2 separate regions of the Homo sapiens genome follow, and region 2 is linked to region 1. Evidence: fine-mapped expression QTL. A gene starts in region 1. The other region holds a variant in brackets. All regions are shown on one strand. Distances are from middle to middle.

The links.
Region 2: its variant is fine-mapped to the expression of LINC01359 in whole blood (TOPMed, PIP above 0.99).

Annotation. Positions count from the first base shown.
Region 1 is chr1:65,000,724-65,005,118 of GRCh38, reverse strand. LINC01359 (long intergenic non-protein coding RNA 1359) reads left to right here and starts at 2,643. Exons shown (of 7, transcript NR_119383.1): 1 at 2,643-2,790. It also overlaps a transcript of JAK1 not described here. RefSeq lists a silencer at 2,278-2,417 and an enhancer at 2,548-2,627.
Region 2 is chr1:65,053,873-65,058,267 of GRCh38, reverse strand. MIR3671 (microRNA 3671) reads left to right here and starts at 426; the gene lies at 426-513. It also overlaps a transcript of JAK1 not described here. The variant T/C (reference allele first, on the strand shown) is at 2,325.

The sequences.
Region 1 (4,395 bases):
TTTTTGTTTGTTTGTTTGTTTCTTGAGTTCAGATTCAGTAGCCTGGTATAATGACAAACTAGAAATCACAGTATGGGAAAAATATAGGAGATGATGCTTTGATTTCAGGAATATTGTGGATTATCAAACTAAAATTAGCAGATTCTATTTAGCCTCTTAGAATTTCAAAAATTTTTAGACATTAGTATACATCCCCACCTTCACGATATCAGAAATAAAGGGTAGTGAAGATAGCAGAGTGAAATATGAGAATTGTCTCCATTTCAGAAGGTATTTGGCTGAAATGAGACATTTCACAATTTGGTCTTCTGGTCTGCTCATCACTGGAAGTCCCAGCTTCTTCCTGGATAAGAAGTTGTACTTGGATTATATTATTATAACCACATTGTAATTATTATTGTGGAAACACCACAGACAACACGTAAAAGAATTTTTAGTCATAATCCCTACTTATAGTCTTGATTCCTTTGATCTTCACATCTACTTGTTTTGCAATTTTGGTTCCTAAATCAGACATTTGGTATAGTTGGTCAGCCTAGAAACGTCAAAGACAAAAGCTGTCTAGCTATTTGCAAGATTGTCATTGAAGTCCCTTGTGTTTGCACAGATTGCATCTGTCTATTCTGAAAGATGAGCAACAAATCCAGTCAAAGCCTGAGTGAAATAACTGACAATCTTAGATCAACCCTGATGGTCACTCACGAGTCCAGCAGTTTCTATGCAGAGCACCAAACACCTTACTTACAAAAGTAAGGTTAGTGGGAGCTTGGTATTTTCCATATCATCTTGGAGAAGCACTGTTTTGCTTATTCTGTTTTTCCTCCTCCTCCTCTTCCTCCTTTTCTTCACATATTTTGTGTGAATAAGAAAGTACTATTGGCTAGGCAGGTTGGCTTATTCCTGTAATCCCAGCACTTTGGGAGGCTGAGGCGGGTGGATCACCTGAGGTCAGGAATTTGAAACCAGCCTGGCCAACATGGTGAAACCCCGTCTCTACTAAAATACAAAAATTAGCCAGGCATGGTGGTGCACACTTGTAATCCCAGCTACTCGGGAGGCTGAGGCAGGAGAGTCAGTTGATCCCAGGAGGCAGAGGTTGCCATGAGCTGAGATCGCGCCGCTGCACTCCAGCCTGGGCGACAGAGCGAGAATACGTCTCAAAAAACAAAACAAAACAAAAAAGTGTTATTTATAGGAATAAGAACTAAAATGCCTTGTTAATATATTGTTTTGGCATTGCCAAATTTAGCCTATTTGAGTGCATGGATTGCATTTGGGGATTGCTGTTTTCTTTTTTGTTTTGTATGTTTGCTTTAGATGCGTAGACAGAGGGAGTGGAGTAAGGCTTTACAGAGATTACTACAGAAGGCATTTTTTTTTTTCATAAAGAGGGGAAAACGCACCCATCTCATAACAAGAATTTGGAGTCAAAACGAGACAGATTCCATTCCTGCCTTCCACATTAATTAGCTAGGTGACTTTGGGCAAATCACTTAACCTCTAGGTTTTCTCATCAGCAGAATGAAAGCGTTGGCCTATAGACACCCATTTAAATCCCTCCTCCAAATACTCATTCGTTCGATATTTTCTCAGTGTCTACTAAGCACAATCATTGTTAATAAACACTATGATTCTTGGAGAGCTCCAAATCGTGTCTCTGCTTTTAAGCATCATTCCCCTTCCTCCTTTAAAACCAGCGCCTGACTTCTCCCCCAAACAAATCGAAACACTTTTACCGTCTGAAAATGTACATGGGAAAAGAAACGCGTTTCATTGCAGTCACCCGGCGCCAACCTAGACCTGGCGGGCCAGCGAGCTCGTGAGATTTTCTTTCTTTCTAAAGGACAATCTCCACATTTTAAAGGGCAACCCAGTTACCCGAAGAAATACAACTTAAAGGGCGCCTGGAGCCAGGCCGGGACACCCACCCACGCTTTTCTAGGCTGAGGAAACCTGGGAAACTTTTGGGCTCCCGCCGAGTCACGCGGCTGTTCCACGGTAAGAATTGTGCAATGGGGCGAGTCAGGCGGGCGTCCTAGTAGGGAAGAAGCGGGGGAGGCTGCTGCGGTGCCAATGCTTTTCTTAAAAAAAAAAAAAAAAAAAAAGCTAGGTTGTCTCACGCCGTGCGAGGCGCGACGGCGCGGCCGGACAGCCCGGTTCCCGCTGGCCCCAAGCCCGGGCCAAGAAAGCATCGCTTCCCCGCCGGGACCTGGAAGGAGCAGCGCGTGCGTGCGTCCCCTCCCGGGGGCAGAGACTGCCCGCCCGCCACAGCGCTTTCCTGGGACTCTGCGAGGGGCCGGGGTGCGAGCGGGAACTGCGGCAGGCGCAGACTGGCCACATCGATCGTGGCGGGGAAGTCCGGGCTCGCGCTTTCGGTAAGAGCGCCCGGGCTTCCAACTGCGCGGTGCCCCCGCCTCCGCCGCCGCCGGCCAGGCTCGCACTTTCGGATGGTGACGCATCCAGCTGGCTCCGCGGAAGCCTGCGCTGAAACCTGGAGCCCTCCGGGGTGGCCTACTCCTCAGCGCTGCGTTACTGAGCGCTCCCTGGGTGCAGGCTTGGTGATCCAAGTTTGGTCACAGTCATCACTTATGTCACTATCCTTGTGATGTACATACTATAATTAGCGTCACTTAGAAGTGAGGAAACAGGCTCCAAAAGCTTGTTACTTGCTTGTAGTCAAACAGAAGGCAGAGCTGCGAATCAAATCCAGGTTTGTCTCGACATGCCACTAGCTCATACTTCCCTTGGATCAGCCACTAAATGGCTTTCACTCCAGTGAGCAGCGACCAGGTAACACATAGGACGGGTGCGTGGCGGTACCGAGCCCACTGCCCAGGGGCAGCGGGGGCGCTTGCTTCTGGCTGGGGCTCACTCATTTGCCCAAATGGGCTGTAAAATATATACATACACACCCATATATGTGCATATATACACATACGTATATACACACAAACATACGTATATACGTGTGTGTGTTTGTGTATACATACATATTGGACAGCATACCGCAGACTCTGAGCCTCAGTTTTCAATCTTGTATTGGGATCAGGGCACCTATTGTAAGGAGTAGTTGGAAGATGAAATAAGATAGTTTTAACATAGATGCCAGCATCTCGGGGACGCCTGATATATGCCATTTTGCTCTTTTTGCAGCACTCCTGGGGACATCAGGGCACTCACGCTCCTTAACACTGGACAGGAGACCTGCGCAGTCATTCTAGGTCAACACCCTCTCTGACAGACTAGGAATTTAATCCACTCAACGGGAAAATCACTTACCTGCATCACCATCTAGTTACTGACAGACACCAAGCTAGGGTTCCTGCTACCCCTCAAACACACATACCACACACTCACACTCAAACACTTGCTGCCCCTCAAACACACATACCACACGCACACACACTTGCTGCCTTTCAGGCACACATACCCCCCCCCCCACACACACACTTTCTACCTCTCAAACACACATACAACACACACATTTGCTGCCTCTCAAACACACATATCACGCACACAAACACACTTGCTACCTCTTAGACATACAACACACACACTACCACACACACACGCACACATGCACCCCCTCTTTTCCTCCTGGAAGATTCAGACCAGCTCTGGGGCCTGAACGTGACTTCCTCCGAGCGTTGGCAGTGGCGTGGGTGGGGACCTCCGGGAAGGCGAGCAGAGGAAATCAGTCACTGCACTCGCCGCCAGCCAGCGCACAGGGAGAGGGGGACCCAGCCCAGAGGTCCCGCCCCCAGCTCCGCAGGAGGCCTCTGCTGGCGGAGGCTGGGCCCCTTTTGGTAACAAGGGGAATCACTGCAGCCCAGTGAAAGATAAACGCGTGGGTCGGGCTGTGGAATGTCCAAAATTATGAAGATTAAGGAAACAGGCTTTAGGATTCACTTGAAAAGTGAAATCGGCGAATGAAAGTTTTCTAACATGATGAGATCTTGGAAATTGTCCACTCCATTTTTGGGAGGGGTTTAATAATCACTGCCCAACTAGAGCAGCTGTTTTTCCCCTTCCAACGCCCCATTTTGTGAATTGATGCTGAAATAACTGGCCAGGTCTTTCCTTTGGGCACCCTGGAATGTTGGGAATATGAATGGCCTCTTAGTAGAGTTGGAGCTCCAAAGGAAAGGACCCTTTAGAAACAAAAACTTCCATGGCGCCACCGCACTCCAGCCTGGGCCACAGAGTGAGACCCCATCTCAAAAACAAAACAAAACAAAAATCCAACCGCCCCCCCACCAAAAAAAAAACCCTCCTTTTTAAAAATCACAAAAATAATTATTATTCATTGCAGAAAAATCAGATTTTTTCCAGAATCAGAAAATAAATGGAAATCCCACCACCCAGAAAACCACTGTTAACAATCTGATGTATAGC
Region 2 (4,395 bases), 53 kb before region 1:
TGTAACATGGGGTAGTTGTTGGTGCAGCCATGTTGTGCTGAGTGAACATATATTAAGATCTTTGGAACCTTTAGGAGACTGAAAATAGGTAAGTATGAATTAGTATTTCTGGAATGGTATTCAGAGAACTTCGTACCATTTTTATAAATGTGAAAGGTAACCTAATTAGAACAGCTTGGCACTTGTCAGTACACTACTAGATTTCAAAATCAGATTCTACTTACAGGGAGAAAAAAAAAGCCCAATATGTTGAACAGTATTGAAATTGTTGCATAAATAAAAGTCCATCATTGTAGACCAGCTTACTGAAGTGAAGAAAGAAAAAAAGTATATCTTTGTCTTGAAGGAGTAGATAGTGACATGTCATGTTTCTTTCAGGATATTTAGGATCTGGCCTAATTCAAAAGAATATTTACTGAATGCCTATGTTATTGCTGCTGCTGTCACATTTACATGAAAATAAAATGTAAATTATTTTATTTCTATCAAATAAGGACTAGTCTGCAGTGATATCTGGCACATATCGATTTCAGGAATACGAAGCTGTAAACACCAAGCCAGCATCACGTGCATGAAAGACTAGGAAATTTTTTTTTTGTTGCCCACACGGGAGTGCAGTGGCATGATCATAGCTTACTTCAACCTTGATCTCCCAGGCTCAAGCAATCCTCCCACCTCAACCTCCCGAGTCTGAGACTACAGGCTCAGGCCACCCACCTGCAAATTTTTAGTAGAGACAGGAGTTCACTATGTTGCCAAGGCTGGTCTTGACCTCCTGAGCTTAATTGATTCTCCCACCTCAGCCTCCCAAAGTGCTGGGATTACAGGCATGAGCCACTATACCCAGCCAGGATTAGGAAATTTAACAGCACACATCTTCAACCTCCATCTTACTCTAGAGAGTACTGCTGGGGGTGAAAGGTGGTTATTGGAGAACCCAGGATTCTGCCAATGCCAATCTCTGCCAATTATCCCTCTTCCCTGTAGACTCCTAAGGACACTGTACACATGTAACAATAGCAAATAAGAAACAAAGTGCATGACTTGATTATGTGTTAGATCTTAGATCACAGTACTGTGCAAGGAAGGCTCAGGTAATTTCATGGAACGTGTTTTAGGCTCAGAGCCTAATCGGGTATATTACCTCATCCTAGGCTCATGTCTGTATCTGGGAGCCTGTGGATGTCTGACTGGTGTAGGAACCCAAAGCAGTGACCCATATGCTTGAGCAAAGAGAACAGAGATGGCTGAGGTTAGGCTGTAATTTGAACCTACCTACCACAGAGAGAAGAGGGGCCAGGGAGAGAAAAACCATTTGTGACTTTTTTTTTTTTTTTTTTTTTTAAAGAAAGAGTCTCAGTCTGCGGTCAGGCTGGAGTGCAGTAGCTCAGTCTTGGTTCACTGCAACCTCTGCCTCCCGGGGTCAAGTGATCCTTATGCCTCAGCCTGCCGAGTAGCTGGGATTACAGGTGTGCACCACCATGCCCATGTAATTTTGTATTTTTGGTAGAGATGGTGTTTCACCATGTTGCCCAAACTGGTTTCAAACTCCTGTCCTCAAGTGATTCTCCTACCCTCAGCCTCCCAAAGTGCTGAGATTACAGGCATTGAGCCACTGCACCCGGCCTCGTGTGACTTTTTAACATACTGTGAACCTTACCTACTATCAGCCCTGCCAACTGCATGTCTTAGATATGGGTCAGGTGTATTATCAGGTCCTCCACTGGGACACAATGGGGAAGAAAGGGAACTGAAAGGGAGTAGGCCTCGTACAGAGAGGTTCTTTCTTATCCTTCATTGTGCCAGTCCTCAGACATTGATGGTCACTGTGTTCCTTTGCTGGTGATTGCAGTTCCCTTTAGTGTCTCTTCCCTCTGCTCTACCCAAAGAGGAACCATTCTTAGTAGTGATCCCTTGAGCCACACTTGGTTGGCCCAGAACTGTTATTTTTTCAGACACATTGACCACATTATAGCCCAGTACCTTCACATGTCCTCATAGATCCACAATTTCTCTAAGCTATATAAGCTACACTACGTTTTTGATTAATTAGAGAGAGGGGTCTCCCCAGTTATTATGCTACCACTCCTGAAATTCTTTGGAGTTTTCTTAAAAGGAATTTCTGACAGAAACTCTGGAAGAACTTTTAGGAAGGGAAAGTTAGGGATTGGTGAATCCTCAAGTAATTTGAAACACTCCTTATGTTTAGTGTTTGAGCAGGTGGAAAAAAGTGCTTCAAGAAGTTATGTGTTGTGCAATCATTGGCCTTGGTGAAGATTTCACCACCTTCCCTGATCTTCCTGTTTTCCCCGTTACTAGTTTTA[T/C]AAAAATTCATTGGGTTTTATACTTACCCAACCTTGACCTCAAAATCTACAACCAGGCCTGTGGGGTGTTGAAGAACTGAGTGTTGGGTGTCATTTGCAGTCACCCTGCACTACGGACAGAGTCATGCTGGGTCCCCTTTCCTCTAAACAAGAAGGCTGAGGCTTAGTCTGCAGCAGGAGCTCCAGAAGCTTGCCTGGACCTGGAGGTCTTTGGCATCTTCAAGGCATTTCATAGACGTAAGGTGTTCCAGCAGGTTAAGAGAGAAGTGATGCAAGACAGATCCAATGGGGTTTTTCCACTGCCTTGCTTAAAACACAGTGTGTGTTTGGTTGGTATATTCGTTACATTTTTCAGTTTAGGTGAAGTATGTGAGATGGTAAGATTGCAATTAAACCTAGGAATACCGTATAATCCAGCATTTCCACTTCTGGATACATACCCAAAAGATGTGAAAGGCGGCACTCTGACAGATATTGTATACCCATGTTTATAGCAACATGATTCACAATAACTAAAAGGAGCAACCCAAGTGTCCATTGATGGATAAGTAGATAAATGAAATGTAGTGTATACCTACATTGGAATATGATTCAGCCTTAAAAGGAAGGAAATTCTGACATATGCTACAACATGGATGAACCTTGAAGATACCATGCTAAGTGAAATAAGCCAGACATAAAAGGGTGTATACTGTTATGATTCCACTCACATGAGGCTCCTAGAGTCGTTAAATTCATACAGCCAGGAACTGATGGTTGCCAGGAGCTGGGGGAGAGGGGGGAATGGAGAGTTAGTGTTTAATGGAGTTGTATTTGGGGAAGATGAAAAAATTCTGGAGATGGATGATGGCAGTTGCACAACAACATGAATGTGCTTAATGACACAATGTACACCTAAAAATGGAAAATTTTATGTGTATTTTACCACAATAAAAGAGATTCAGGATAATAACCCTCTTGAAGCCAAAAACAGGATTTAGTTGATTTCTCTGCTCTCCCTTAGTTTTCCGTGTGAAGATAACTGCTGTTTCAAGTAAGCAATTAAAATGTAATTGCCATGTCTTTATGCATTTCAAGTTCTCTAATCTGAAGTCCTTTACACATGTTTCCAGGGTTTCCAACATAGCATAGCTTTAGAATTGTGTAAAATGTAAAGAAAACTCAATATAGTAGCAATGAATATTAAAAACAATGAGAAAAAGGCGTGGACAAGAAGTCACCTGATGTGGCATCTCTTGCTGGCTTTATGTCTTTTCTGGTGAGATTGGGCAACTCACTGGTCCTCTTCCTGTTCCAGTTGCCTCAACTGCCCACGTCTTTGGAGTTATGCTACCACTCCTGAAATTCTTTGGAGTTTTTTTAAACAGAAAAGGAATTTCTGACAACCTATGGAAGAACTCATAAGAAGGGAACGGTCTGGGATTGGTGAATCCTCAGGTAATTTAAAATACTCCTAATGTTTAGTGTTTCAAATTACTTGAGGATTCACCAATCCCAGACCTTTCCCTTCTTAGGGAAATCATATATATAAAATCATATATATAAGAGACTAAAGCAGCATTTAAATGTGGCATGTTATTAAAATATAAACATACAATATATGAAATAATAGTATTAAGTATAGTTTTAAAAAGTATCCTGGTTAGTCTTACAAGTCAAGTATTAGCAGCTTCATTAAAGGAGCATTCTACAGCTTGCTGTCTGTCACGAATAGTTTTCCTATTTGTTGTTACATGCTTAAATTTGATAATAAGAATATAATAATTGAGGCTGGAAATAGCAGTAACCTTCCCTAAGGGATCACATGTTTTATTAGCTGTGGGTAAAAAGGATTCATTTGTGGACCGTATCTGTTTCATCACAAAGTCCTCACTTAGGGTCATGCTTTTAAAACTAAAATCAGATTTTAGTTTTAGGAACATTAGACTACCTCCACCAGATCCTGCACAGTATTCTACCTTGATCATACTACACAGAGTTGGAGCAGACAGCTAGCTGTTGTTCTTGCCTGCCACGCTAATTTCAAATATTTTGCTATGCCTAGTACATTTCTAGCTTCTCTGAATAACCA